Linked DNA regions of Homo sapiens. The protein of the gene in region 4 purifies or fractionates together with the protein of the main gene of each other region. This does not show direct contact. Each region holds a gene or a part of one and is shown on either strand. Other genes may lie near its edges. The genes, in order: MTR, SECISBP2L, LRBA and INSYN2A.

Region 1 (7,784 bases), on a different chromosome or scaffold from region 4:
AACACCAAAAAGATAATGCATCAAATGTCTGGCACACAATGGGCACTCAACAAATGGTAGTTCTGTTCCCTTATCTTCTTCCTGCTTTGGCAGAACCTGATGCCCACCGAGAAGTATACCATCTCAGAGATCTCAACCTCTGACCACAATTGTTCAGTCTACATCTCCTAGTCTCTCTGAACAAGCATCACATCCCTACTGAAACCCTGAAGATCTTGATGCTCCTTTGTGCTCTCTTCGAAACTCGTCTCCCTGGCTCCACTCCTTGGATCATCTCAACCTCAATCTGACTAGCAACCTGGAATCCCTTGACCCCCTTGATTTTCCAATACTGAATAAACCCAACCCCTCTTAAGTCGATGGACAATGGTTGCAGAAGCACTGGGAGATAAAAACCAAGATACGCACATTTATAGTAACAATAACAAACATCCGAAATATCTACCCATAGGGAAACAGCTAAATAAACTAAAATATATCCACTTTATTACATGCCATGTGACAGCAAAAAAACTGTGTATATCTACAAATACTGACATGGAAAGATTCTGCAAAGTATTGTTAAGTAAAAAAAAAAATAGAATGATACGTAAAGCATGACACCATTAAATTAAAAAAACATACACAGAGTACTATGAGTTTTCTACATATATATATTCACTCACGTATACACACATACACATATATGAAAATGCCTAACAAAGGAATCTGGGACGACACACACCAACTAATATCAGTGGTTATCTCTGGGGAAAAAATAGCAATTTAGAGTATGGTCAAATGGGAATGTATTATCTACGAGATTTGTTTTATAAGAACTAATTTAAGTTTTTTTTAAAAGAACAAGAAAAACTGAAAATAAACTTAATGCCTAGGAATAAGGAGATTAGTTAAATAAATGATGATATATACATGGAATAGATTATGAAGTTATTAAAACCATGTTCCAGAATATTTAATACTCATGGTATATAAGTAAAAAATGCAAATTATAAGACAGTACGAAGCAATGTAATCCCAATTTAATTTTTTAAACTCCAAGTATAGAAAACTAGACTAAAATACAAAATACATGAATGATAATTGTATCTTAGAATTTTATAATGGGTGAGCGCCAGCTTTCTAGTTCATAGACAGCATCTTCTCACTGTATCTTCACATGGTGGAAGGGGTGAATAAGCGCCCTTGAGCCTCTTTTATAAGGGCACCTCCTAATACCATCACACTAGGCATTAGGATTTTACATATGAATCTCATGGGGACACAAACATTGAGAACACAGCAGTGCCCTTATAAGCACAAATATGAGAGTTTTTTGTTCTCTCTCTGCTCTCCGTCATGTAGATACAAAGACAGCTATCTATAAACAAGAGGGCCCTCACCAGACACAGGATCTGCTGGCACTTTGACTGTGGACTTCCAGCTTCCAGAACTGTGAGAAATAAATGTGTGCTTGTATAACCCAGTCTATGGTAACAGGTAATACAGCAGCCAAAGCTAAGATACCAACCACCTTTAAGCATTTCTTCATCAGGGCTGTTGCAGTAACTTAAATAAGATAGTTTTCTCACACTCACTAGTGTGAAAACCCTTATTTGTCCAGATTCTCATAGTTTTTCACTAGAGTTTACATGCCTCAAGGGCAGAAAACCTACCTACCTCATTCCCTTATCCTGAGTGCTTAACACAGTACATAACTTTTATTTGATGTCCAAAACCTGCTTTCTGAATAAATTGCCTCTTTATTCTTTATTCTCCGGAGCACTCGGCATAGCAGCCTGCCCTGATACATGAAACAGCTTGCAGAATAACAGAATGAATACACATGGGAACCTGGGAATACTTTACCTTATGGATTTGGTAAATGACATCAGGCTGAGTTATACTTAAAATGTCATTGTTGCCTTTCAGCGGCCTGGCATGATCTTTAAATTCCTGACCTCGGAAGTGTTCTTCGTTTAGCTTCTCCCGCTGGATCATGGTCCCCATCCCTCCATCCAGCACCATAATCCTCTTCTGCAGAATGGCATTGATCTCATCCCGCAGGGTTTTCTTCAGACCTTCTTTAAAGAAAGTGAAAGTTTGACTTCAAAGAATGAAAGGTGAAAAAGATGTGTGAGGGAGGAGCTTTAGAGAAATTTATAATAATCTCCAATAAGGAGTAAATGGAGTTTATAAAAGATGCACTCATAACTCTATATAGGAAAACGCTGCCCAAAAAGGTCATTAAGTCGTGACAATGCCTAATACAAGATTGCACACAGCACAAAATTCCTGGTGAAGCACGAAACCAAGGTGAAGGTAGGCTACACTACTCCTGTTTTACAGATGAGGAAAACAGGCAATAATGGGCCAGTGATACAAGACTTTGCTCTCTTTCCTTGTTAATTCTGTGCAGATACTCCCTAAATAAAATGATTTAGCAGAGATAATTGAAAACCATCAATAATTCCAAACTATTCTTTAAAATATTAGCTTTGACCTTCTCCCTCACCTATTGCCAGAACTAATAATGGCCTGCAAACAGAGTTTTACTCACCTCTGCCCAACTATGAAATAATAACTGGCTAACACCCTTGAACTTCTCAACTCTCCCCATGCTCCTTGACTTCTAATTCCCAGTCCAGAAAAGGGCCCAATGCTTACTCCTTCTAATCCTGCTTTCTGGTTTCTACGACCTACTGGAAAGCCACAAAACTATGCTGACTGGAGTCACTGAAAACTTGCAACGTTCAGCCTCCTTTGGTTCACCTTTTCTTGACCTCCCTCAATACTTCCAACATCTACTGTCCCAATTTCTACTTTTTTTTTTAGCACCAAATCCTTTTCCTCCTCACTCCACAAGTGATTTCACCTAATCCCGTACAAAGAAGTTTTCTGTTGGAGGCTCCTCAAACTCACACCCTCTCCACCTCAAAATCCTCTTGCAGTCTGGCTCACTCTATTTCCCTTCTTTCTGTACCTAAGGAAAAGCGCATGATGACCAACACCTCCCACTGCTCCCTCATCTAGCCCTTCCCACTCCCACAGTTCCACCTCAGCAACCACCGATTTCTTATCCTTCTGACATGGCTTCCTCCTCCACCACTCTCCTGAAATTACTTTCTAAAGTCACCAATGACCTTCTAAATATCAAAAACACCTGGCCCCAATCTTAGACCCAGCTTTTAAACTGTCCACTGGATATGGCTACCTCAACTACCCACCTGCCCCTCAATCTAATATTCAAAACCAAACTTGCATATATTCTCTGTCTCATCTCCTGATTTCTGTAAATGGCAACACCCTTCCCAGAAGACTAACCATAAAATCTCAGTATTATCTGACTCCTTATTCTCCCTGATAACCAACATCTACTTAGATCCCAAGCCTTATAGATTTGGCCTCTAAAATGCCATGCACAATGGTCCCACCTTCCTCGCCCTGTGACAACCCCTTTCTTCAACCCCTTACTACACAGGCCAGCTATCACCAATCCTCTCTGAGCTCTAGTTTGCATCCATGCAAATGAGATCATACATCTATGGAAGTGCCTTGTAAACTATCAAGTGTCCTACAAAGGTAAGAGATCACCACCATACCCAGTCGCCCTGTGTTCTAATCCATCCTGTGCACCACTACCAGATTTATCTTCCTATACAACAATTTTAAACCAGTTGCTTCCCCTGCTCAAACACCTTCAACAACTCCCTATAGCATATCAGACTGAATACATGTTACTCAAAACAAACCATAATGACGCCAACCCATTCCTTCTGTGCTAAGAGGCGAGAAAAGCTCAAGTCAAATGGGGCTGGTTCTAAGCTATCTGAGCTCCTTGGAACTCATGCCTAGCAACACTAAGGTCAGTACTTGGCAAATATTTCTTTAATTGAAATGACAAAAAAGTGAGGGAAGATGAGAAAGAAGAGGCAAAGATAATTTAAAACCCAAACCAGTAATGTAAGAATATTTGTAAGCTGGTATTGGGTGCAAACTTACAACCCTGCCTCGTCTTACTGTCCAGAGTCTCAAGTATACAATATGAGAACTGGGGCTAAATGGTGGTCACAGAACTATTTTGAGTGACTTTCTCCAAGTGGGCTTCAGGAAGGTGGCTCTAGTAACCTAAAAGAAAAATTTGCAATATCCAATATCTAGTTTCTGGGCACTATGTTTCTTTCAGGGTGTACTATTCCTTTCCAAAGCCACCTCACTTGCTAATTGTGTTTACTGAACTTGCAGGTGAGATAAAACACTTCCTGATAAAGGAACGAAGTTAAGCTCCAATGATCTGTACAAAAGTACTTCAAGAACCAAAGAAAATCACTTCTTGGGAAATGTGGAGAAAAGGTAGGGCTTAATGAAGCATGTATAATAGAAAGACTGGTAGGCATCAGGCAGTGGGCGCCATTTCAAGCTATAGTCGACACGGTAAATTCACATGTAGTGTTAATTTAGGCACTCCATGATGTGACTATCCTATCAGCCAATAAGCACTCAGAATTTGATAGGCTTAAGCTAATAGTAGCAGGGTGTGAAAACCCAAGAAATCTGGGTTTTAGCCCCAGCTCCCCTTAGTAGCTATGGGATTTTAGACAAGTCCTCTCCATGCTTCAGCAAGATGAGGAAACATCAGCCCTGCCTTCATCATCAGAACTGTGATACTAAAATGAGACCATGTGTTAAGAACTGGACCTCTTAAGTCACACAAGTCATGAAATGAGACATTGGTGTTTGATGTATAGTAAACATCTGATAAATATTAGCTACTCTTATTATGTTGGTATTATAGCACAGCAAGGACTGAAGCTCTAAAGATTGTGTTCTATATATTACAAAGCTCAGTGGGCTGTGAAAAATCATGTAAAGCCTGAAGCTCTCAGTTGGTCATGTTGGGGCAGGAATGGCATATTTGCAGGTTGGGAAATGTCTTCTAACAGTCGAGTGAAAGAAGAAAATACTCAGTGAAAGCTGTTAAATGTAGATAATTTCACAGGAGGAATGAGAAGACTAAGAACTAAAGACTCTAACCTACATGCCCAGCTGAATCGCTTTCTTCTCAAAAGGATGTAGCTGCAATTCTCCCTGAAATGACATCACGTGAACTTAAGTGGGTGACTGAATCATAAGCCTAGTGTGAGCATGAGGTGTGGCAGTGGGGAAATAGGTCATGCACATGAAATTTCATATTTAAAAGGTATTCAAACTTCCTAGGGAGAAAAAGGCAATCTTTTCCACAGACAGTGAAGTATGTCCTTTGGCATCGGCAAAATGATTAATCAATATCAATCAATATCCTATTATTTACATGTCCTTCTTCCTATCTCCTCCACTGAGCGAGTGCACACAAGTTGAGCAAATCTAACCACTCAGAGTGCCTCCACCCCTCATTTTCATAAAAAGTCTTAGTACTTTTCCATGGGGCCCTTACTGTATTCCCTTTTCAATCCAGAAATAATAAGCTTTGTTTTTGGACTTTAAGACAGTTCACTATTTACCACAAAACAACCCAGCCCCACACATGCAAATTCTGGCATCTTGTTTGTTGAGCCACCGTATAGGCAAGAGATCAAAAGCTGTTTAAAAACATCTGCTTTGGTTTTTCAGAAACCTGACAAACTTATTGTATAATTTATTGGGAAGAACTTTATGACTTCGAATGAAAAGGAACTTCTTAAGACTCAAAAAGACCAACCTCTTAATTTAAAAAAAAAAAACACAATGAATTTGATTACATAAAAACCAAGGATTTCTGTTAAACGAAAGTCACCATAGACAAAAATAATAGACGATGGGTTGGGGGAGATTCTTCAATGTCTAAAGCTAATTTGTTTTCTTATTGATTTGTGTTAGTTCCTTGTACATTCCAGAATGTAATATACAATGTGAATTAAAAATACCTATAGACTAGAGTTTACAACAAAATGTATAAATATATGGATATATGTGAAAAAGGCGGTCTATGGAAACAAGAGAATTGTGAATAGAAAATACAGATAAAAAGGAATATATAATAAAACACAGGAATTTTGCAGCCTGAATAAAAAACTCCTATGCAACTGAGGCCCTTAAAAATCCATTACTTGGGCTGGGTGTGGTGGTTCACACTTGTAATCCCAACACTTTGGGAGACCAAAGTAGGTGGATCACTGAGTCCACGAGTTCGAAAACAGCCTGGGCAACACAGTGGCCTCATCTCTACAAAAAAAAAAAACAAAAATTAGCCAAGCCTGGTAGTATGCACCTGTAGTCCCAGCTACTAGTAAGGCTGAGGCAAGAAAACTGCTTGAGCCTGGGAAGTCGAGGCTGCAGTGAACCGTGATCACGCCACTGCCCTCAGCTTGGGCAACAGAGTGAGACTGTCTCAAGAAAAAGGGGGAAAAAAAAAAACATAGTTTCCTCAACTACTTGCTTATTTTTCCTTTAGAGGATAATGTAAGATTTCCCATTTAGAGAAACTAAGAAGTCTTCCTTCAGAAAATCTGTTGGTATTAAGTGTTCACTATTTTTAGCCTTCTGTATTCCTCCAGTTTTTCCAGTAGGAGGTCATTTTTCACTGGGCTTTAATTACCATTCTAATTCACCAGTTTCCAATTACTATCAGAACTTGCTCAAAAGAATAAGTCACCTTGACAATTCCTTCCCCTGGCAGAGTGGGGATCTACTGAAATGTCACTCTTCCATGAAGAACAACAAAATTGTATTTATCTGTATTCAGTTCATTAGGTCTAGAACATTCTGTATACTTAACTACTGACTAGTCAAGTTCTAAATAAAGCAGATTCTTTCTGATTATCTTTCACAGTAAATATAAGAATATAGTTTTGCAGTTCCTTTACTTAGCTGACTAGTTATAACACTATTTCAGAAATATTTTTATGTTTAATGTATATATGTAAATAACCGCAGTGCAGAGGAGAGTCCCAAGGAACATCCTTGGCTAGTGAGCCTAAGAGATCACACAGTATTTTCTCCAGTTTTGAGTGGATTTAGCCAATATATTTTGTGGGGTTTTTTTCCGTGCCCTTAACATCTTATTTTCTAGCTAACAATATTCTGATTCACAGCAAGTGTTCCAAAGAATAAACATAGGTATAAGTGGTTAAAGCCCTAGTCAGATTTGGAGGGGGGTAGACCAGCTAGTACCACCTTTAAGAACTAGCCTAAAGAATGACAAGATGAAGGCCTAAACAAATAAATTCCTAATATGTGCATGTAAGTTATAAATTGCAGTGTCAAGAACACATCTGCTCTGAAGGTAAAATGACCCCAAATAGATCTGACTTACTTAGGACCCCTCTTTCCACTGTGCTAAATGGGGAACACATACAGCAAAAGCACATTTTTATTTTCTGCATTATAATCAAATGATCCCAAGGCTTTCTCAGCACTGTTCTTTCTTTGCTTTATTAAAAACAATCTTACTACTGCCCTACAAGTCACTTGCAAGATACTTCTCTCTTTCATTTTTGGATCTCTAATTTCTAGTTTGCACAGACTTGCTACACTTTGTTTTTTTGGTTTTGTTTTGTTTTGTTTTGTTTTTTTTTGGAGACTAAGTCTCACTCTCTCACCCAGGATGGAGTGCAGTGGCATGATCTCGGCTCACTGCAACCTCAGCCTCCAGGGTTCAAGCGATTCTCCTGCCTCAGCCTCCTGAGTAGCTGGGGTTATAGGCGCTCACTATAAACCCAGCTAATTTTTGTATTTTTAGTACAGATGGGGTTTCACCATGTTGGCCAGGCTGGTCTCGAACTCCTGACCTCAGGTGACCCGCACGCCTCGGCCTCCCAAAGTGCTGG
Region 2 (7,093 bases), on a different chromosome or scaffold from region 4:
AGACACCTGAAGGTGAAGGAAGCATGTTTGCCTTGCACACCCTGTGCACCTTATGCCAAGACATAACAAAGTACAGTGATTGGGGCATGGGCTTTGGTATGGGGCTGGGTTAACATCTCCATGACTCTTCCATCATCTGAAAAGTGAGAAATAGTAACCAAAATCTACTTCACAGGACTGTTTTAAGGATTGAGTTAATACTGGGAAAAGACTTAGAACAGTGCCCAGCACAGAGGAACTAATATAAAAAGGTGAAGGAATCTATAGAAGCCTTCTCCTAATAACCAGGATGGTCTCTGGCTAAACGCCTGGGCCCATGCCGCAGATCACACCAACCATCCCAGATGGAGATTTTTATTCTTAACTCCTTCGTGACGATTTTACAGCCTTTTTTGGCAACTCCATATGACCACCAATCAATACTCAAGCTGGACTCTTTTTTCTGTCTTCTACTTGTGGGGAGTCATGAACTCTTGAAGTATCTCTTCTGAAAGGACAGATTTCATTTCAATAATCATTTTATTAGTACAGAAGAATCCCCACTAGTATTTACATAGTGCAAAAAAGCTGTTATTACCCCCCAAATGTGATATAACAATTATCCTTCATACAGCAAAAGATGAAAATCCCTTCATGTTATAACTCACACTAATTTTGCTAGTTTTTTATTAGAGCATTACAATTAAGACATTAAATTATAAACTTATGTGGTATATTTAGAAATTAAATTATAAAATAATACAAATACTTTCAAGGTGTGATGTGCCAACAAAATTTAAATTTTTCTCATTAGGATTCAGATTTCAGATTAGGCAAACAGTTTGGTTGATTCTGTGATGTATGTAAAGGTTGGAAGGGATGAGGGAGGAGGAAGATGTCTGTAAATAAATTATTTCACAGAATTTTTTTAAATCAAAAAAAGATAAAAATTTTTAAATGAGTTGATGTTCTAACCTGTTGGCCCAACATACAGAAAATACATGACAAGGGTGTTTTTTTTTTTTAAGCAAACAGCAGCTTTACAAACAGTAATACTTCTTTATACATATATTAAAGTAACAATGTGTTAAGATTGAACAGTTTCATGTTAAAGAGTTGAAAATGAGTGTAGCATTCACTACTCATTTGCACATTTCAATTCCCACCCCTCCCTCCTCCCCCAGCTTATTTAGAAATCAGACAAGTACATATTTGGATATTAATTTCTCAGTATTTAAACTATGTGAATTCCTTTTGACTAATTCTTTTCCAAATACTGGAATCATATAAAATACCATCTCTGCAAAAACAACCTCCAGTCAAAGCCAGTAAAAACTTCTCAATGTATAACACACATTACTTTTCCACATTTAGTCAAAAGAAATATATTACATCATTTACAAACATATTTAAACCGAAAATTAAGCTAATATGAACATCTGTCTTTTGAGAAGTAATCTTCACAGCAAACAAACCTACTGAAGCAGAAATCTAACTTTGGAAGTGTAATTCATATTTTAGTTAATATGCTTACATACTGAAATAGAAATCTATTATTAATTATTGCCAGTAAAACCACCTCTACACATTAAGAGAAAAAATCACTATGTTTTTTATTTCTTGTGATGATGAACCAACCCTTACTCTTCCCACTGGATCTCTTTATAGGTCTTCAAAGAGCCAACCATGCCCACTTCAAAAAATATATAAAAACTTTCCTAATTTTCACAACTCCTCCAAAGCCTGTAATTCAATATTCCAAAATTTAAAGGAAACAAGTTATAAAGACATTATTAATATTTATTTAAGCATGCTCTCAAAATGGTAACATTTCCTTTAATAATTCTTGGGTTGTCCTCTAGAGGTGACCTGTCTCATAAAAAGGCTATGGTCCCTTGGATTTGCTGGCAGAAGAGGTACTGCATATGCGAGAGCATTTACCGAACATATAAATAAACACTTCTGAAGTCTATAGCAAAACTAAAAGTTACCAGTGTTCTGAAGATTTCCTCAACTTCTCTTTTGATACAAATGTCAAAAATCTAAAATGACAATTCATGTTCAGAAGAGATATAAAATATAAGAAACCTGTGAAAAGCCATCATCTCAAGGTCAAGAGTTATCTGAATCACTGACATCGAGCAAAGGAAATTTACACCATAAAAAGTATGAACAGTTTTTAAATTCACTTTTAAGACTGTCAGTAGTTCAAAACCTCTATCATTTCTTTAAACCAACGAACACTTCCAAATGTGTAGAGACAGTAAGATCTGCCATGTATAAATCCATGAGTACTATTTCAGAGGCTTCATTCCTTACCTGCTGTGTTCCTTTAAATATTGGATATTTAGTGCCTAGGAAGTCTATACTGGAGAACAGTTTAGACAGGACAGTATAAGAATGTCCCCTTTTAGCACAATAATAAAGTTGATTGACTAACATTTTCTACACAGCTCCTGAACTTTCACAATTCACAAATACTAAATCATCAACCAAGAATCCAATCTCTCCAGTAATTAAATGCCAGCATTATAAAACATCAAAACTAGCACAGTAGTCCCAATGAGTTCAGTAAAGAATCTGCCCAATTCTTCTCTCCTGCCTCTGTGAGGCAAAGCCCTGCCCCAGATAATCAGGGCAGGGATAATACCCCTTCCTTCTCAGTTTTGTGCCTGCTTATGGAAGCTTGTAAGTGGAAAACACACACACGTACGGATGTGTGCATGTGTGTGAGGGGGGTGGGGGGGACAGTTGGGGGTGGTGGGGAGTTGGATGGAAGACAAAAAAATTACATAGTTTGTCATTCTTCCACCATTACATAAACTTGTAAAGTCACTGAAGTCCAGGTGGTGACTGACTAGCAAATAAAACATTTAGCTCATTTATTGTCTCCTAAGCAGGTATACAAACTCCTAGAGAAGGGCAGAGATAAATAATAGTGAATAGAGAATTAATACCTACATATCTGTATACTCTAAATCATCTAATAGTTTCAGCACAATTAGAACAACTTTCTCTTATCTTCTAAAACTTCCTCCTCTAAGCCTTGATTATCAGGATACATGTCACAAGTTGTGCAAAGTTCCTTTCCTTGACCTCCTGACAGTAACTATGGTCATTGCTATGTGGAAGGTGCTCAAGGCTAGGTGCAAAATAGGTATTTTTTAAAAGGTGAAACAGTTTTGCACTCAGGACAAGTTTGGATACTCAATCAAATCCATATCTCAAATCAAGAGTCCTGAACCAGAAGCATGCAAGAGAACACACCAGTATAAGACTCTGTTTCTGAAGAGTTTACATGTAAGTGCAGCAGTCATACAATCGGTTACAGTTATTCACCTGTCAACATGTGCCTAGCTTTTTGTAAATAAGTCTATGTACAAGAGCATTCCTGAGGTAAGTAAGAAGCAAATATGAGACAGAACCTGGAGGTCCTATCATGGGTGACTGTTCACTATTATAGACAGCATCTATCACTTTCCACAAATGAGGCTAGCTAGCTATAATCTAAGATGGTGGCTCCACTGCTAGCCGAAGTTTTGAAGGCTCTGTTTTAGCCCATCCCAACACTAATTAATTACAATAATCAGTGACTTCTGACTAAACATTTGTGGACCACATAAAAGTTGCATTGATTTTTTAACATACAACACTGGTGGACTTAGTTACCCTCAGCCTTTCATTTAATTTTCTGACTCCACCCCCAGTTCTTTTTTAAAGAAGCCCAAACAATTTTTTGGTCAAATTAGAGTAGAGGAGGTGGAGTCCTGAAGCAAACACTGATAACTGCTTCTATCCTTAGAACCTTGTTCTTTAACTTTCAAAATGTCTTTTAAGTAAGCATTTGAAATTTATTTTCTTTAAGATCTGGTCTTCTTTTTATCACTGTTTTTGATTACAAAATAAGCTGAAACAGATCTGAATTTTCCACACAGTTCTTAGAAAGACACTTAGATACTAATTAAAAGCTAAGCTACAGATCATAACAAGTAAAAGCTACAAAAATATTTGTTGGGAATTAAATACGTATATTAAATACTGGACAGTGCAAAATGTTGAGATGAAGCATAAAAGGTAATGGCTGCAACCCTTCCACAGCTGGAGATAGAGAGCCGACATTTCCTGAGTTACGTAGTTTGCGTTGTGTAATTAGAATCAGAGTGCTCTTTGTTGAGCGAGCTGCAGTTGCTGGACTTCTGCTGCCCAGGACTGGCCTGCTGGTCAGCAGTCCATGCCTCACTGTCCATCCCTGGCTCCAGCACCTCAGGCGCCTCTGCTTCCTCTTCTCCACTTTGCTCTACATTGTCTTCCTCAGAACCATTAAGGGTTTTTCCAAGCTGAAGGGTTTCCATAGTTCTCTGGGTCTCTGAGACCCAAGACTCAATTCTACTATTGAGCTGCACTTCTACAGATATGGGTTCATGAGTATAATCTTCCTCCTCCTCCTCATCTTCATCTTCTTCTTCTTCAAGCATGCCAGGTACAAGAGTGCTGGTGGTGCTGGTGATGGAGGAATTCAAAAGATCTCGGCAACTGCCATCCAAAGAGCCAGTCTCTGTACTCTGCTGTGAGGCCCATTCCAGGTCATCTGGCTTCACTTCCTCTTTATCACTTGCTGTGGATTTCCCAGCACTTGTAGCTGAGGTAGTACTGCCTGTAGCCACTAATGATGGCTGCTTACCAATTGGGGGTGTGTCAAATGGAAGTTTACTGGGTTTTTCAGAAGTGCTGTGCTTACAGGATACCTCTTTCTCATTTTCTGATGCTTCCAGTCCATCTGAAGTTTCCACCATGTTTCTCCAATTTGTTTCTACAAGTATCAAGCAGATTTTTTAAAAACCAGAACACTGTTTCAAAATCATGCAACTCTTTAAAAACCCCCAAAAAAGAAAGAACAACAAAATATATAAATTTGTTGGCTTAGAAACTGACTGGAAAAACTACAAATTTAGTTTATTTAGTACTAGTTTGAGACAGAGAGAGAGTGTGTGTGTGTGTGTGTGTGTGTGTGTGTGTGTGTGTGTGTTTCAGATGGGGTCTTGCTCTTTTAGGCTGGAATGCAGCAACATGATCTTGGCTCACTGCAGCCTTGACCTCCTGGGCTCAATCTATCCTCCTATCTTGGGCTCCCAAAATGCTGGGATTACAGGTGTGAGCCACTGTGCCCAACCTAATTTAAATGTTATAAAGGGAAAATAATTCCCAAAAATGTACATTCAAGATAAAGAAACAGGGAGGTAAAAATAAGTATATTAACGCTTCAGAATGCAAGAGATCTTATACCAATAGGAGCTCACTGGCATTCACAAATAAAATCCATATATTCATGAAAATCAATAAACTGCCTAACTTTTTGGTAGCCTAGAGGTGTAATGGGCTCAAGGACCCACAACCCAAGAGATAGAAGAGCCAAGATGTCCAGCAATAATAGTTCTGATTCATGTGTTTGTACCATGCTCACTCAGCAAGTTATTTAAATTATCTTTTGGCCTGTAATGGGACATGTGTTTCCAATTATAAGCAAAGAATCCATCCATGCATTTCTAACATCTGTGAAAGGTTGTTTTATAATATATATATATATATAGCTTGGCTTACAAAGTGATTTTGGAGGACAAAAAAAGTATTATATACTACAGTGATGACAAACTAAATTATTTCTCATGATAGGAAATCAGTTGAAGGCAAAAAAAGTACCAAGAATCAGTAAAGATCTCTCACCCCTGTATTTTTTCAAATTTTTTTAAAAAATAAAAATTCTATCATATTGACATTACAGCTACTATTTGCAGTTTATAGGTATAATATTCTTATCAAGTTGTAGCAAACCTATTCACATTAGTATGTTCAATATGGTCACCATCTATGGCCTATATATTGATATAGAACATGTTTTGGGCACTTCAAGTCAGGATACATTGTTTGGGAAAAAATTTCTTTCCTGAAGCTACTTTAGTGTAGAATGAGTCCTTTCCACTGTCATTTCTACCTTATGAAAAAAAAAAAATCACCTCCTCCTATATTCTCATTCTCAGCTAATGACATTATCATTTACACAATCTCAAAGCAGAAGACACCTTATAGTAACACTTGATCCTACTTTTCTCTCTTATTAGTATTATATCCCTTTAGTCCACTGAATTCATCACTATACCATGACACCTGTAGCTCAAAAACTACTAAATCTGTTTACTACTCCCTTAGCTCAGGCCTTCTTTTTCTTGCTGTTCATTTGTAACATCTTCGTAACCGGTTTTGTGAACTGATTATATCATTGTCTAACTGGCTTTTTATCACCCTAGGATAGAATCCAAAATCCCTGGCGTGGCACAGCAAAGCCCTTCATGATCTGGCCCTTATCTATCATTCTGGTCCTACTGCCTTCTGACCCTGCGCCATAGGCCACACACTCCATGCTCAGTGTCATCTAAATTCTCACTGTTCCCTAAAGTTGGAACATCAGCTGTACTCTTTCTGCAGATGTGTTTTCCTCCTTTCCCCTTCAGACTCCTATTCATCTTGATAACCACTCTTAAATGTTAGTTCCTTCATGAAGTTTTTCCTAACTCCTGACAGGCAATCGCTAACCTGAACTCCCACAGTACTTTTTACATATACAGTCAAAAGCCTTGTTTTGTGTTTGCTGTTTCACCTTCCTCATCCCTCCTCACTTCCACTCCAGCTCATCTCTGTGTCCCTATGACTGGTATATAGTAAGTGCTGGGGAAAAAAAAAAAAAAAAACAGTCTAGTAAGTGAAAATTTTCCCACATATATTTAATTATGAAAAAAAATTTTAAAGGCACAAAATGTTTAAAAATTTTAGATGCACATTAACATTTCAACAGTTTTTTTTTCTAAGGAGAAATCCAAGACCCCGAGATTAACTGATTACACCTAAAACCTTTAGGCAGAGTATAGAAAAACCAAGGCTTCAATCTTTGAACACTTTGAATCTGGTGCTTTCTGAAAACATCACCTCAATCTCTGAGACTTTCGTTTTATACTACTTGTGTTTATATGTGCCCATATCATTTGTTACTCTGTCATCTGTCCAAACCCACAGCTTTACAGGTTTCTCTTATGGCTTGCCTTTGAGATGCGGCATTTCACTA
Region 3 (7,784 bases), on a different chromosome or scaffold from region 4:
CATTCAGAGCATCAATTTTAGAATTAAGACTGCTGGGTTTGAATCCTGATTTTATCATTGTTTATCAACACTAGCTTGGAGATGTTACTCAAGCTTTATGTGCCTTAGATTATTCATCTATAAAATGGAAATTACAATAGTACAGCTCAATAAGTTGTTGGACTTAATTAATACATGTATATCACTTAGACTGCTTACTATGTAATAATGCATTATTCCTTTTAATATCACTATGCTGATCTGCTAGCTCGCTTTATATAAACTATCTTTTCTAATATTCTGTTTCTAAAATCATTGTCAAAAGAAGTCGTTTCTAGACCTTTCTATCTCTGCTCCACTATTTGATATCACAAAGAATTTTTAATCTCAATACATTAGGCCTAAGAGGAAATATGCATCAGTTAAGAGAGTATGTGAAAGACATATTGTAACTTACTATGTCTCTGAAAACAACTGCCCTAAGCCGATTAATATCCATGTCCTGTAGAAGCCTGTCAAGATCTCTTACTGGAGATATACCGCCAGTCACAATGTCCACTGGGCTCTATTTAAGATTAAAAAAAAATTGTATATATATATATTCATATATACATTACACAGATATTCTTTAAAAATAAACACAGTATTCCCAGAACCAGAAAAGCAAAGCTATAGCATTCCTTTCCCCACTTTTTTTGTGTGTATGCTTCCTTCTTCTTTGAGGGGTTGGGGAGAGAGGTGGAGAAAGATGGCATGCAGGAAAAAATGACATATTTGAAGGAAAAGGCATCACAGAAACAATCAAAGTAAACACTGGGAAAAGCAGAGAGGTTTAAATATAAACAAATCTTTATTGTGTATTTAAACACAAATATTTGAATGTTATATGCAGGCCTAAAGTAACTATTTTAATCTCTGCCAGATTTATTTAACTTTATGTTGAAATGAACAAATAAAAATCTTAATTGTAAAATAGGAGTATGCTTTTTGAAAATTAATTAATCTGTATACTTACCTTCGCTGCAGATTTCCCTAAAGGAATAAGGCTATGCATTGGTTTCAAGGCTTTATCTCCCCTAGTTTTCAGTTGTGAATGCTGTTGACACTCCAAGCAATTCCTTACTGCGACTGCACAAACTGTAATTTATTTTAAGGAAAAGATAGGGAAAGAAAAGTTAATATTTAAGATTATGGAAGTGAAAAACATCAACTACACAATATGATTTACATAAGATTTTATTCAAAACAGACGACATTCAGCTTATTCCTAAAATGTCCCTAGACTTTATCGCCTAGTGTTGGTTGTCTGATATTGTTAGCTTCCATGCTGTGGCCCAGTTAAGATTTAGGGAGGCAGTATGGCCTAGTGGTCTAAACGTTTAGGGTTTGCTGAAAGGAAATCAGTTCAGGAATCTTAACAATAGGCTACTATTTCTTAGATCTCAACTAAGCTAGCTGGGACAATCTTTAGTTAAGAAAAGGATAGGGAAGAAAAGAATTGAAAGAAATGGAAGAAAACAGGGAACAAAGTACATTACCATGAACTAGTCGAGGTAACAATCTTCTATTACCATCATTAAAGTAAATTAGTTAAACTGGAAACTTTGATGTTCTTCTTATATTGCATCATTACAGCATGATATTAATTGAGACTAATAGAGGATATAGCTTTTGAAAGAAGCTTTATAGGGTCCAGCATTTACTAGCTTTCATTAAAACTGCTTAGAAAATGGGAGACAGGAAAGGGAATTTGATTAATATACAGTCTAAAATTACCTAAGGCTCCCACGAATCAGGCAGTTAGATTACTTAGAAATTAATTTTGGATTTTAAATGATGAATTACATTATGTACCCTTCACTATGAATTGCTTGATACCATGTAATCATCTAAATTCCCTCCAAATCTGTAGCACTCAAGGTACTTGAACTGAGCAAAGGAGGGAGAGCAAATTAGGAACAAAATAGCAAACTTAAGGGGGGACTTCACAAAGAATCACTGGCCTATCACATGGCTAGCAGGCATGAGAATTTAGAAAGAAAGTGTTCTGAAAGGTGCCCAAAGAGAGCAATAAAAGTTGAAAGAAAGGAAGGAGGGAACAAGAGGAGGGAAGAGAGAATATGGAATACAGCTTTGTCAAATTTGCTATCAGACCCAAGAAATATTTTACTTTATCAAATTTGCTATCAGACCCAGGAAATACTTTTCATACAAACTTTTTCACAAGTTGCATAAAATCAAATTTGAGTCTGTATTACAAAGTTAAAAATCACACCTCATTTCCTGGTTTCAATCAGTTACTCTTACTGCTGTCATCCTAACTTCTAACTCCAACCTCAGGAAACAAGAATGAGGACACCAGTGTCCATCAACAGATAACTAGATAAAGAAACTGTGGTACATATACGCAATGAAATAATATTCAGCCGTAAAAAAGAAAGAAATCATGTCTTTTGCAGCAATATAGATGGAACTGGAGATCATTATCTTAAGTGAAACAAGTCAGACACAGAGAGACAAATATTGTATGTTCTCACTTATAAGTGGGAGCTAAATAGTGTGTACACATGGAAGTAGAGTGCGTAATGATTGAAAATGGAGACTCAGGCCAGCGGTGGGGGCTCACATCTGTAATCCCAGCACTTTGGGAGGCCGAGGCGGGGGGATCACAAGGTCAGGAGATCGAGACCATGCTGGTCAACATGGTGAAACCCCGTCTCTACTAAAAATGCAAAGAATTAGCCGGGTGTGGTGGGGCACACCTGTAGTCCCAGCTACTCAGGAGGCTGAGATAGGGCAATTGCTTGAACCCGGAAGAAAGAGGTTGCAGTGAGCCCAGATCTTGCCACTGCACTCCAGCCTGGCGACAGAGTAAGGCTCCATCTCCAAAAAAAAAAAAAGAAAGAAAATGGAGACTCAGAACTCAGAAGGATGAGGGGGTGAGGGGGGTCTGATGATGAGAAATTATTTAATGGTACAATGTGTGTTATTCATGTGATGAATACCCTAAAAGCTCTAACTTCACCACTAAGCAATCCATGTATGTAACAAAATTGCACTTGTACCCCATAAATTTACACAAATACAATTTAAAAAAAAGATATCACACATTTGGACTGTTACTTTGTTTACCATACTCTATTAAATGATCTTGGACAAGTCATTTTTTAAGTCCCATTTCCATATATAAGAACAGATGGTACTGGGGTGGATTAAATTATCTCTTAATTCTTTTCCGTGGCTATGAAAAACTAGGAACATAGAGTATTTCCCTAGCCTCTGAATCTGATGATTCTTGAGTAAGGCTTTGCTAGTATAGCCTTGCACTTTTACTTCTAGAAATGTACTCTTTCTAGGAAAGTGAAAAGCCTTCGAAAATGGCACACATAAAGCAATAAAGTCTAAATATTTTAATTATAATACTAATAGATTAAAGAAGTATACTACAATAGAAAGAGTAGGAGCACTAGTTAGACAAAAGTATAGTATTCAAATTCTACCTTCACCAATTATAGCTTTTTAGCTATAGATAAGTTTCCCAATTTCTTTTATCTTCAATTTCCTCATGAATAAAAAGAACAAAATTGTCACCGTGAAAATCAACAATGACAAATGACAATAGTCAATAAATGATAACTTTTATTTTGTTATGCTTACAATTAGAATGTCTCTTAAATTTTAAAACAACTGTCTATAAATTGTTATTCCAAGTTACTTAGAATAGCAAGATATACCATTGATTATTAAATATAAAATACTTGGAATTTTACATTTAAACTAATACTATTAAATACTTTGAATAGCATTTTGAGTAAAAATTATACTTGTGGCAAAAAGCACAGGTATACATTAGTTTATGTAACAGACATTCTTGCTAAATATGAAAAAATATGTCATTAACTACATTTTCCACTTCCATGTTATGTTTTCATAGGTGCTTTATCTCTTCATATGACCATGGCTCCTAATGGTTTGCTTCCATTTCTTGTGCCTTCTCTCCTCACCACCTTCTCTTCACTTAATAATCAAATCATTTAACAAAGTCTCGATATTTACAACTATATAGAAGGAAAATTATGCAAAAAAGGGTTTTTTTGTTTTGTTTTTTGCTTCACCTAAGAAGTCCAGTTAACATTAAAAAGTCATTTCATGTATTTTTACTTTTACTTAGGGAAGAAGTGTTTCCAGGAGAAGAACAGAGATTTCATGATTTTATTAACTGCATTAACAAATTACCACAGCTTTTTTGAATAAAGGCTGTACTTGAATGATGCTAGTTTAGAACGTTGTTATTCCAGTGTGTTTGTAAGAAAAGCAGCATCAACATCACCTGGGACTTGGTAGTCAATTTTAGGCCTTACCCTAGACCTCTATAACCCTTTTTTTTTTTGAGACAGAGTCCCGCTCAATTGCCCAGGCTGCAGTGCAGTGGTGTGATCTTGGCTCACTGCAATCTCCAACTTCCAGGTTCAAGCGATTCTGCTGCCTCAGCCTCCCAAGTAGCTGGGATTATAAGCGTGCACCACCACACCTGGTTAATTTTTGTATTTTTAGTAAAGACGGGGTTTCACCATGTTGGCCAGGCTGGTCTTGAACTCCTGACCTCAGGGGATCCACCCACTTTGGCCTCCCAAAGAGCTGGGATTACAGGTGTGAGCCACCACCCCAGCCTAGACCTATATAATCTAATCTGCATTTTAACAAGATCATCAAATTTATGAATCACCTTGTGTTTTTTAATCACCTTAAGTTTATGTATCTCCTTAAAATTTCAGAAGCACTACTTTAGAGCAAAAAGAGATAGGGGAGCACCTCTAATTCCAGCTACTAGGAAGGATAAGGAGGCGGGATCACTTGAGCCCAGGATTTTGACACCAGCCTTGGCAAGAAAGCAGAACCACCATTTCAGGGAGAAAAAAGAAAAAAAAAAAAAAAAAAGATAGGGGAGAGTGGAAACTCCTGACCAAAATCACCTTAGTAAATTTTTCAAAATACATCCTCCTTCTTGCCCATCCAACTTACCAACTACTACTATGTACATTAAAAAAAGTAACCATATGACAAATTAGCTAACATATATTTTCTCACCAACAGAAGACGGATAATTTTCAATGTCATCTCTGAATTACTGAAAAATTTTTTTTAGTAAATTCCCAACGGTTTTTAGCAGCTCACCTAGTCGGAGACACTGCCGCAAAATTCCTCCAGATGACATACTTTTTTCAGCTTCAATTTCAGTAAAGCCAAGAGAACTTGCAAATATAAGCACATCCACAAGGCTAATTAGCCTCTGCAAAAATGTCACAGAGGCTTCTATTGAAAGGCCTTGAGTAGGTTCAATATTTTCCAGTTCATGCTGTAAAGAATAAAGTTTGACATTTATATATATATATTCTGAAAAAAAAATTTTACCAGATATAGTCCTAAAATTTATAAATTGCATAAGTAGTCAGACTTTCAGAAACCTAGTAACACAGAGTGATTTATACTTATTATTTCATCTAAAAAGGGTGGGGGATGAGGAGGAGCAACAGAACCATACAGGTGAAACATCATGAACCACATTCTTCACTAGCTGACTCATACTTAGGGAATCAACATTCTTTTAAGTTCTTTCATTACTAGAACAGATTCTAAGGTCCTCTCAAGTAAAAGATCCTATTGTTTTTTATTTATAGCACCTACGATGCATAGTAACCACCACATTTAAGTTTTAGTCAATAAAGTTGCATAACACTCATGTTTTCACACCAATTTTCTATAGTAATTAAGTCCTTACTGTAGCCGATGTAGCAGCTGAAAGCAATGGCAGTATACCCCCACAAGCCATGACCATATTGTCCATCACTTGAGAGATGAGATGAATTGTGTTGTGTACAAAGATGACATTATCACTGCTATTCACGAAGTCCATAACTGTCTTTGTTGAATGGCTGTCCAAAGATAAATGATATTTACTGATAAAGCTAAAGAAAGGAAATCACAGTTTGCCTACTTGAGGGGAGGAAAGATAAGAAGGTGCTTTTGCTTCATCTTGAAAACTGAAGGAAGATGATGCAGCAGGCATTTGGAGGGTGTATACTTCTTCAGAAGAAACAGACCATTCCATATCAGTAGTTACTATCCATGCCCTCCTTCAGTGCTGAAACATAAATACTATTCATTTTACACTGGATATAAAAAGTTGAAGAAAATTATCCTTACTGGGAACAAAACTAAGAAATCATGTGACAAAAATTAGGAGGTAAATACTGGTAAATGTGCTATTAAAAATGAATTTTCTTCTGTAATGCCTATAAAATGCTTTTAAACATAACAAGAATCTTACACAAATAAAAAAAAATAAATTAGGTCACTTTAAAATCATAAATCATACAATGGGGGATAACTTGAAGTACACAGATTTTTTTTAATGCTAAAAATACATTGGAAATATTGATAATGTTATAACAATTTTTTTTTTTTTTTTGAGACAGAGTCTCGCTCTGTCGCCCAGGCCGGAGTGCAGTGGCGTGGTCTCAGCTCACTGCAAGCGCCACCTCCCGGGTTCACACCATTCTCCTACCTCAGCCTCCTGAGTAGCTGGGACTACAGACGCCCGCCACCACTCCCAGCTAATTTTTTTGTATTTTTAGTAGAGACAGGGTTTCACCGTGTTAGCCAGGATGGTCTCGACCTCCTGACCTTATGATCCGCCTGCATCGGCCTCCCAAAGTGCTGGGATTACAGGCTTGAGCAACTGCGCCCGGCCTATACCAATTATTTTTTAATACTTCTAGTAATAAACCAACTTGATAAACCTACCTTCTGGTGAATTCCGTGCCATAAAATTGCTACAGGAAATCTACTACAAATTTTTTTAAAAGAGAAACCTCTGCTTTTCACATTTTTGTAATCCAGATAAGGATTCCATTCTTATAATGGAGAATAAAAGTGAATTCAGTAAAACCCTACCATAGAATAATTTCTATTCTACTTTTTAACCAAATGTCTGAAATTAATTACAAACTGTTTCTATGGATTTCTTTGAAAATAAAGACTAGGTTTATACACATCTTCCATAATAAACATATAGACAAACCTTCTCCACATCTGTATATCTGTTTCTATTGAAAATAATAGATCAGTGAGCAAACGTTGATGCATCTGAGACCAGTTGAACTCAGGAATACGAAACACAGTAGATCTGGAATCCCTCCTTTGTCCATTAACTGCATCTGGTGCTATTCCTTGCCCTGGCTGCTCATGTTGCCTTGATATCTAATACAGAAATTTAAAAAGTAATAAAATAGGTTCAACTTCAGCAGGAGGCTTTAGCAAAGTAAATAATTTAGTAGCTTCTATGCAATTCATCTAACACGTTTTTAAGACACTATAAGAACCAAATTAGAGAAAGAAAAATTATCAATGAGTAATAACATTAACATTTTAGTACATGTAAGCAAAGCTATCAAAAGTGCAAAACTACCACAATTTAAAAGTAATTAACTTGGAACCATGTTAAGTATTACCACTATGTAGCATTTTATAAAAGAATCAAGTAACAGTTCTTAGTTTTTAGCCTTAGCCTAAAAGAAAGGCAGTATTTAGAATCTAAGTGGCATTTGGATTATGAAGTGGCTAGAATGAAGAATAAAAACAGAGATAACATAATGAAGAACCAACCAACAAAAACAAAAAAAAGGAGGGTGGGACAGAGGATAAGAATTGAATAAAGTGGAAAATGACAACATGCTACCAAGCACTGTCTCATGGGTCACTCTGAGATATGGACAGAGGAGAAGGCTGTGCCTCTAGATCTCACA
Region 4 (8,225 bases):
GCTTTAAAATATTGAAGTCACCCCATAATGTTATGAAATATTAAAATCAAATATGTGAGACAAAAAAGGATCTGCTTCATAAATCATGCCAGCTAATTTCTGGTTGGGGAATGTAGGTCTCCAACCAGTGGAATCATGGTGGGGAGGGGTTGTGGTGCTTCACATTTATGAAAGACTGTTGAAAATGACGATGACACTGGTTTTATCTGGGGAGTTTTTATGACCTCACACTCCCAGAATGACGGTGGTTTGCCTCAAGTATGTAGAATTTGCCTGCCTTCCCAACTGAGCTTCTTGGATGCTATGGACGCGTTGAACAGCATCCTTCACAAGCGTTAAAATCCGTGGTGAACCTGTCACTGCCCTCCTACGTAAATATCTGACCACAGAGCTGCTGCTTTGGGAGGTAGCTGTGATCATTTCTGTATCATGAGTCTCTGAGAAGCATAAGTCACCTGCTTCTCATATTCCAGAGTTCAGTAGTTGTCTCTAAATGAGATAGCCATGGCTGGGCGCAAACAAGAGAATACAAATGTCTACGTGAACGGGTCTGTCCTGCCACTCCACTGCGATCCGTTGTTATTTCTGAGAATCATTTTGATTTTTGGACTGCTTATTTCAGTGTGTAGGAGTCTTCCTTGTAGATGAATGCCTTTCACGTACAAGTCTTTCTCTTATTTATTGATTTATTTAAAAATTTTTCCCTACAGAGGGAGAAACAAAACACAAAAATTCCCTTTCCTGCCACAGGGGAAAACAACTGTGGCAAAACAGAGAAGCCCCCGAAGTAAACAGAGTAATAGAGTACCCAGCCTCCCATAGAGCTTGCAGAAATCTCATTGTGCAGACATGGAGCTTCCCAGCTTTTGCCTTGTTAGCCTATTTCTTAACCAGTAATTCTGTTTCTTAATAGGATAAAGGGCCTGACTTACATGAAAGCTCAAAGTCTTAATCACAATGATAAAATACAAAGTCGTGGCAACTGTAATAAGTTTAAAGACATATGTAGCTTTTCAAGGACATCTTGTCTTTAAGGAAAAGTCTTTCATTTAGCTAAAGAAATTAAACTGAATTGTTTAGTCTTTTAAACAAAATGATGAATTTAGTGAAGAAAACAAAACTCTCCATGGCTAATGTAATTTATGCAAAATCATGCAATTAGTGATAGCTGTGCTAGACTTTTTCTTTTCCTTAACCAAATGCGCCTCTAATAAAACCATCGTGAGGAGCAGTGCCATCTAATGTAAGTAGTAAACATGGATAGTAAATGATTAATATCTGGTGAGGCATGCAGATGGCAGGACTTCCATTTTTTCTTTGAGCTCCTTGTGCATGTTTGCTAATCATTCTTGCAAAAAAATTGCAAAGATAAATATGAACTTTCAAAAGTAACATTCAACAGGATATGAATGTAAGAAATAGTACAGTGTGGGGGAATAGTAAAAACCAGCACTTTCCGCCTCTGCATAGTGAAATGACGGTAACTTGCTGTAGCGTAAGCTTAATAAGGGTTATATCATTTTCATGTATGTACTACTCTGGGAATGGCCCGGGTCTTGTGAGTGGTATTTTTTCATCAAGTACCCAGCCAGCGCAGTCACTCTGACAGTCCCCCCACTGAGATAAGGCATGGAAAGGTAACCCTCTAGCAAGTCCTCGTTGAGGGGGGAGCGTTCAAGTGCACAGACGTCTACCCTGTGCTATCCTGAGCTGTAGTCTTCTGAAATGATCGTTTGGCTTCCCAGCCAAGGCAGGGCTCCCCCAAAGTTCATTCCCACTCTTGCAGTTTCACCTCGGGATGCTTCCGCAGAATTTCAGCGCCTAAGCAGACAAGGTCAAAGTAAACCGCTTCACCGCTGCTTCTGGCGCAGGGGCCCAGAGCGCGTGCAGCTCCCCAGCACAGACCAACAGCAGGAGAGGGGTCCGGGCGGGAGCCCTGGGCTGTAGATAAGCAAAACGCACCCATTTTCTCTCCTATTTACTCCAGAGGCACCTCTCCTCCCCCACTCCTGGCATCTCTTTATCACTGGCTCCCTCTCCCTGTGGCATATTTTTGGGTAGTAGAATGCTGAGGTCACAGGGAGCGGCTCTTTATCCAAGCAGTGGGGACATCAGCCTGGAGCCCTGAGCATGAACCAGCAAGATGCAGACTCTCGCTCTTGACTTTGGGCTCCAGGAGCTGCCCCGACCCCGGGCTGCCCGCGGGCTCCCTCCTCCCTCCTGCCCTCGCCCGCCAGCTCGCAGTCTCTTAGGTCTGCAGCGTTGGTTGGTTTCCCACGCCTGTCCCGGTCTGACTCGGGCTGCCAGGCACCGGGAAGCCCCGCGGCGCCGACCCCAACCCGCAGCCCCGGGAAGGTGCCAACCCCAGCGAGTGGAGGAGACGAGCATTTCACGTGGGCATCTGCCTTCACTGCTGCTCGCGCCTCTCCTCAACGGCCGGCGTCAGGGCCCCTCTGTTCCAACTCATCCCCCCCCCGAAGTTAATCAGCCGTACTTGTACTTTCCAGGGCGCTTTAGTTTGGAAAATACTTAAAAGCCTCGAAACCTTCCGGGGAGACGGCCGCCCCCAGATCTCCCAGTTTTGCCTGGCTAGGGCTGTCGGGCGCTCACGAAGCTGTGGCGTCTGTCTGGAACCCACATCGCAGAGGCGCAGCCCCGCTCCTCCCTGACGTCGCCAAAGTTGCCAGACGCCCCTCAGCGACCCGGTCGCGCCAGATGCAGTTGCATAACCTTGCCCCCCACCTGCGACCGCACCGGGTCCGCTCCCGGCTGCACCGGGGTGTCCCGGCCCCGGGAGCCGCCGAGTTTCCGGCCAAGCCGGTTTGGGGCCGAGTGTGTGCGCCCGAATCGGGGTCGGCGCCCGTCCCAGCGGTGCTCTGCCCGCGGCCAAGTACGACGGGCGCGGGGGCGCGGGAGGAGGGCACGCGGGGCTCCGCTTACCTTCCGCTGCTTACAGATAAGTCGAGGTCGATGCAGCGCCTGGCTCGGGCATGTCTCGCTGCGGACCCTGGCAAGCCTGGGGCGGCACGGAGCACTCCGGACAGGGCATCCGCGGCCAGACTCGCCGCGCTCACGCGGAGGAAGCCTCGGCTCCGGGGACTTGGCCCGCTGCGCGCCTGCTGCCCGCCCCCTCCACCGCTGCCGGCCCGGCCCTGCTGGCCCGGCCGGCCCCCGCGCCGCAGCTCGCGTCGCTCGCGTCCCTCCGGCCCCGCTTAGCGACGCGCGCGGGGAGGCAGCGGCTGGGCCAGCTCCGGGGACGCCCGCGCGCTCGCTTGCTCGCGACGCGGCGGAGCCAGCCACAGCCACCCGGCTTCGCGCTCCTCCGATGTCCTCATTTACTGCAATTGTCTTCGGCGAGATCTCAGAGCCAGGGCCAGGAGGCGGGGGCGGGGCAGAGGAGGGAGCAGGAGGGAAGTCCTTTCCGCTGCTCCAGGTCCCAGCTACTCCGCGGAGCCGGGCGGCCAGAGGCGAGGGCGCCCCAAGCCGCGCGCCTGCCGCCTGTGCGCCCGGCTGGCACCGAGGCGGGCGGAGCCCCGGGCCCCGCGGGGCGGAGGTGGGGCGGGGGCGGCGCGGGGCCGGGCCGGGCCGGGCCGCGTGCGTGGGGTGGGGGATAGGGAGGGAGTGGAGGAGCCCCCTCCCGCCGCCGCCAGAGCTGGAGGAGGAGGAGGAAGAGGAGGAGGAGGTGGAAGGAGCTGCCGCCGGCTGCCGCCGGCTGCCGCCTGCGCGCGGGGCTCCGCCACAGCGCGTCCTCCGGGTTTCTGGGCTGCAGGCGGCGCTGCATGGCCCGGGAACTTGTTGAGTCTACCCTGGAGCCGCCTCCGGAGCAGCTGGCGGGCGGGGGACTCCGTGTGTTCTCTCAGGGATGGGGGGTCGCTGGGGACCCTGCTGCATGACTGTCTGCTGTGCCAGCCAGCCTGGCCCGGCGGGGCTTTGGGAAGCCAGGCTTGAAGGGTGCGTGTCTTGTAGGTGCCTGGCCGCTCACCTGCGGATGCTGCCTTGTAGAAGCAGGAGTTCGGGGATCCTTTCAGTGCTGGCTCCAACCTGGTGTCAGCCTCTCTACATGGGGACAGGAGGTCCTATGAGTGGCCTGAGGACTGAAGTGGGAGGGCCTGCCTGGTAATGTTGCATGCTGACATTTAGGGACACTCCAGAGCAGGCGCCACTGCCACTCCTAGCCAGGAACCCTACCCCCCATCCAGAGCACACACCACCCGTCAGCAGAAGCCACAGGGCGCAGAGGCTGAGTTCCTTTGTGGCAGAGTAGAATTCTCTTGGGAGAGGAAAAGACCTAGGATGCACACGGAGCTATCCCCGCCCTTAATTTCCCACCCACCAAAGAGTATTGGGTGTTTTGAGCTCAGAGCAGCAGACCCAGGGGCCCCTCTGATGCCTGTCAGGCCCTGGGGTCTGGGCCAGGGACTAAGCAGCCAGCCGAGTGCAGGGCTCCTGGCCCCCTGGATTTGCTCCTAGAATGTAATGTAAAATGTAAGTAGCCACATTTATTAGTCTGTTTCTCAGGAAAGGTCAGAGAAGTAGTGGACCCCAGGGAAGGGACAGGCTTCGGAGAGGAAATTGGGAGGACAAATGGAAAGTCCCTTCACCCACCCACCTCTCCAGACACATCAGTGGGCAGTGAGACCTCTTTGCCTATACATCCCTGAGTCTCTGCACCTAGCACCAGCTCTGTGCCTGTGACCAAGCCATAGCTCCATCCTTGTTCGCTGAGCTGAACTGAGCCTATCACTGCCTTATAGAGTGTCTGTTTTTTATAAATGACTTTATACGAAATACCTTCTTTGTATGTGGATGCTTTGGGCAGTGTGTCCAGACATTTCAGAAGAAAAAAAAATCTAAAATGTCATCTATTTCCCTCTTTACCCCGCAGCATCCTTTGGTATACAATTTTGCCAGCCTTGGGGATCCAGATATGCCCAGGACGGGAGTCCTGAGCCTGTGGATCCAAACTCTGCCCACCTCACTCTTCTTGTTGTTCTTCTTAACTCAGATCCCCCAAGCTGATTTTCCAGCTTACCAGGGAGGCTGTTGGGAGCTGGCTGGAAAGAGATGCTTAATTTTGTGTGAGCAGTATGGAAACTGCAGTCCCCTCTTCTGCCTGGAAGGGGCCTGGGAAGGGAATGTATAGGAGTTGGGGACGTTTAAAACCAGATAGGAGAAGTTGCCACTCTCCAGCATGTTCCCTTGGGGATGTGCTGTTGCAGCTGTGGGCTCCAGTAATTTTCCCAGTGGTCTGGGGAACTTCTGTAAATCTTACTTTATTGGCAATCCATAAAATTGAAATCTGCCTTCCGTCTTTTAAAGTGACTGTAAATAAAGCTGCCAGGAAACTTGGGCATTGGGCTGGTAGTATCAGAAGGCTGAAGTTTTCCGGGACCAAGAGTGAAAACAGGTCAACATAAATGCATGCCCAGCAAGGCAGTGCTCAGCCACAGGTGGCACTGTGAACTGGCAAGAAAACAGCTCCAAGGACAGTGCTATCTGAGATTCGCATGATGTATAACTCCAGGAAGAAAATGGAAAGCCGTAATTGGCAGGTTAGAAAATCCACTTACATGAAGAGGAGAGTATAACGGAATTCTGTAGCATCATCAGGACTGCTTAGAGTTGTTCAATTGTGTAGTAGACTTACAGTTGTTTTGCTAAGTCTATTAAAATCATTGGCATCGCTTCTTTTTTTTTTTTTTGAAGTAGGAAACCATTTACATATTGTAGTGCTTAAGTGCATGTCTTCAGCATCACAAATCAAAATATTGGTGAAAACTTGCCTCACCTTACCTTTGGCTCTGGAGAGATATTCCACATGGGTGAGGTGTGTGTCATCATGCTCCAGGCTTTAAAGCAAGCATCATGCTGGGGGCTGGCTGGAGAGAAGGGAGTTTCAGCCATCTTCCTGCCCACAGATCCCTCTTGCATTTTTTTTTAATAGATGGGATGTAGGCATATTTTTAGGGTCTAGAATGAGTCAATATGCTCGGCTTCCTCAGGAAAAAAAAAAAGTGAAACTTGATAGATTCATTTTAGGAATCAATTGGTATTGGCTTTTTATATTTTGCTTAAGATTTTTGTTGAAAAAGATAGACTTGCAAAGGAGAAAATAGCTACTTTTCAAGTGGGATTTCCTAAAAGCAGAGGAATAAAAATAAGGGAAAGTTCAAGACGGCTAACTAAGCAAAATATCCACGTCTCTCTTCTTTTGCCTTCTTCTTGGAATTGTGCAGGGGTTGTACAGAGAATTGCTGGAATTCCACCCCTATGGTATAGTGAGTTTGAGGTCTCAATTTCCACATTAAAAAGTCAAGAATATACAAGTCAAACATGTTCAAGAATGTTCATAACAGGTTTATCTATATCTGTTCCAAACGGGAAATAATCCAAATACCAGTCAACAGTAGATAAAGATTTCTTGGTTCTTCGTATAGTGGAATACTAGACAGCAACCCAAAAGCACTAACTGCTGATGCATGCTTTGGCATGGAGGGCTTCTACAAAGGTGCAGAACAAAGGAAGCCAGACGCCCAGTGTTTATGACATGATTCCCTTTAGATGAAGTCCAAGAATGCGACAAAGTTATCAATGGTGGAAAATATCAGAATGGGGATTACCTTTGAGGCATACTCGTTGCCCGGGACCACAGCAACTTCACTGGTGCTGGATCATTCTGTCTCCTGCACTAGTTGCTTATGCAGTTTTCCACCTATATAGAAATTCATGGAGATGCTTCCTGTCTCAGTGTGACCTCATTTGTCTGAGCATCATCACTGTGTCATTGCAATGTCCACATGCATGCTCCCCAATAACCCTTACCCCTCAGTGAACCAGTGTATCTGTCAGTGTGATTAACCTGTATCCTCTCCAGTGTGCAAGGCAGGAGAAGAGAAAAGTGTCTCCAAACTAGCAACTGCAGAAGAGGAGCCTTCCAGTTTAGCTACACAGCAGAACTTCCTTCTTTAGGAGACTGCCGATGAAACGCCTGCCCTCCCAACTGTCCGATGTCGCTGTGACAGAGCTCGCTATGGACGTGAATTTTTCTTTCCCATGTCTTTGTTACACAAAAGCGGTCCCGATCCAGATCCCAAGAGAGGGTTCCCGGATCTCACACAAGAAAGAACACAGGGCGAGTCCACTGTGCAAAGTGAAAACAAGTTTATTAAGAGAATAAAGTAGTGAAAGAACAGCTACTCCATAGACAGAGTGGGACATTCCCAAAAGTAAGAGGAGGAATGCGTCCAGCCTAGGTACAATACTCATATATATGGGGAGCTCTGCTCTGCTACGAGGGTTTGTGATAAAGGATTAAATTTCTTAATTATTATATTTTGCAAGAATCGATATTATCTGTTTTCGTTTTTGTTTTTGTTTTTGTTTTGGAGACAGAGTTTCGTTTTGTTGCCCAGGCTAGAGTGGCGTGATGTCAGTTTACTGCAACCTCCATCTCCCATGTTCAAGCAATTCTCGTGCCTCAGCCTCCTGAGTAACCTGTAACCACGCCTGGCTGATTTTTTGTATTTTAGTAGAAATGAGGTTTCACCATGTTGCCCAGGCTGGTCTCCAACTCCTCAGCTCAGGCAATCCACCCATCTCAGCCTCCCAAAGTGCTAAGATTACAGGCGTGAGCCACTGCGCCCGATATTATTATCTTTAAAGTAAAATTAGGAACGCCTTTGTTCTCAGGATGTCTGGATATTAGGACACTCCCAAGTCTGGGTCTGTTTAGTAAACATCACCAGTGTGTTCCCTTAACCTTAAACATCTAGAGGTGAGGAATGCCTAACTTTCTAAGAATGCAGCCCAGTAAGTCTCAGCCTCATTTCTCTAGTCCTCACTCAAAATGGAGTCGCTGTGGTTCGGATGCCTCTGACATCTGCATATTCCAAAGAGACTCATAGATGAGCCCAACCTAAGTCTGTGATGGGCAGGTTACACCCGTCAGTTCAGAAGCTGTGGTAGCAGATCAGCCAGTGCTCAACGCCTACGAGGGAAAAGTAACTCATATCGCCTTCGACCTGTAGGGTCGAGATCATTCCCTTGGGGACACTTTAGCCTTGTCTTTCAAGAACAAGACAGACACAATCCTCAAGGTGCCCCAGTGGGGCCTCCTTTTCTGCCGAGAAGCCCTGCAGGAAGGCTTTCTGCATCATTCCCCTTGTCATATTCTGCTCGAGCCTTCACTCTCCTCTTTCTGGGCTTATTTCTGGTTTAAGACTCTC

What was found.
Region 1: the proteins of INSYN2A (region 4) and MTR purify together in Homo sapiens (affinity purification with mass spectrometry; 2 studies listed by BioGRID and IntAct, with this or other methods). This does not show direct contact.
Region 2: the proteins of INSYN2A (region 4) and SECISBP2L purify together in Homo sapiens (affinity purification with mass spectrometry; 2 studies listed by BioGRID and IntAct, with this or other methods). This does not show direct contact.
Region 3: the proteins of INSYN2A (region 4) and LRBA purify together in Homo sapiens (affinity purification with mass spectrometry; 2 studies listed by BioGRID and IntAct, with this or other methods). This does not show direct contact.

The regions. Positions count from the first base shown.
Region 1 is NC_000001.11:236,797,707-236,805,490, reverse strand, and holds part of MTR (methionine synthase), read right to left. Parts: intron 2,064-7,784; coding exon 1,849-2,063; intron 1-1,848. UniProt on the Homo sapiens protein: Catalyzes the transfer of a methyl group from methylcob(III)alamin (MeCbl) to homocysteine, yielding enzyme-bound cob(I)alamin and methionine in the cytosol. MeCbl is an active form of cobalamin (vitamin B12) used as a cofactor for methionine biosynthesis.
Region 2 is NC_000015.10:48,988,138-48,995,230, forward strand, and holds the end of SECISBP2L (selenocysteine insertion sequence-binding protein 2-like), read right to left. Parts: intron 4,790-7,093; coding exon 4,107-4,789; 3' UTR 501-4,106; downstream 1-500. UniProt on the Homo sapiens protein: Binds SECIS (Sec insertion sequence) elements present on selenocysteine (Sec) protein mRNAs, but does not promote Sec incorporation into selenoproteins in vitro.
Region 3 is NC_000004.12:150,843,664-150,851,447, forward strand, and holds part of LRBA (lipopolysaccharide-responsive and beige-like anchor protein), read right to left. Parts: intron 7,240-7,784; coding exon 7,061-7,239; intron 5,913-7,060; coding exon 5,759-5,912; intron 5,336-5,758; coding exon 5,155-5,335; intron 1,117-5,154; coding exon 995-1,116; intron 545-994; coding exon 437-544; intron 1-436. UniProt on the Homo sapiens protein: Involved in coupling signal transduction and vesicle trafficking to enable polarized secretion and/or membrane deposition of immune effector molecules. Involved in phagophore growth during mitophagy by regulating ATG9A trafficking to mitochondria.
Region 4 is NC_000010.11:127,193,057-127,201,281, forward strand, and holds the start of INSYN2A (inhibitory synaptic factor 2A), read right to left. Parts: upstream 3,536-8,225; 5' UTR 2,941-3,535; intron 2,722-2,940; exon of another isoform or gene 2,495-2,721; intron 2,219-2,494; exon of another isoform or gene 1-2,218. UniProt on the Homo sapiens protein: Component of the protein machinery at the inhibitory synapses, probably acting as a scaffold. Inhibitory synapses dampen neuronal activity through postsynaptic hyperpolarization.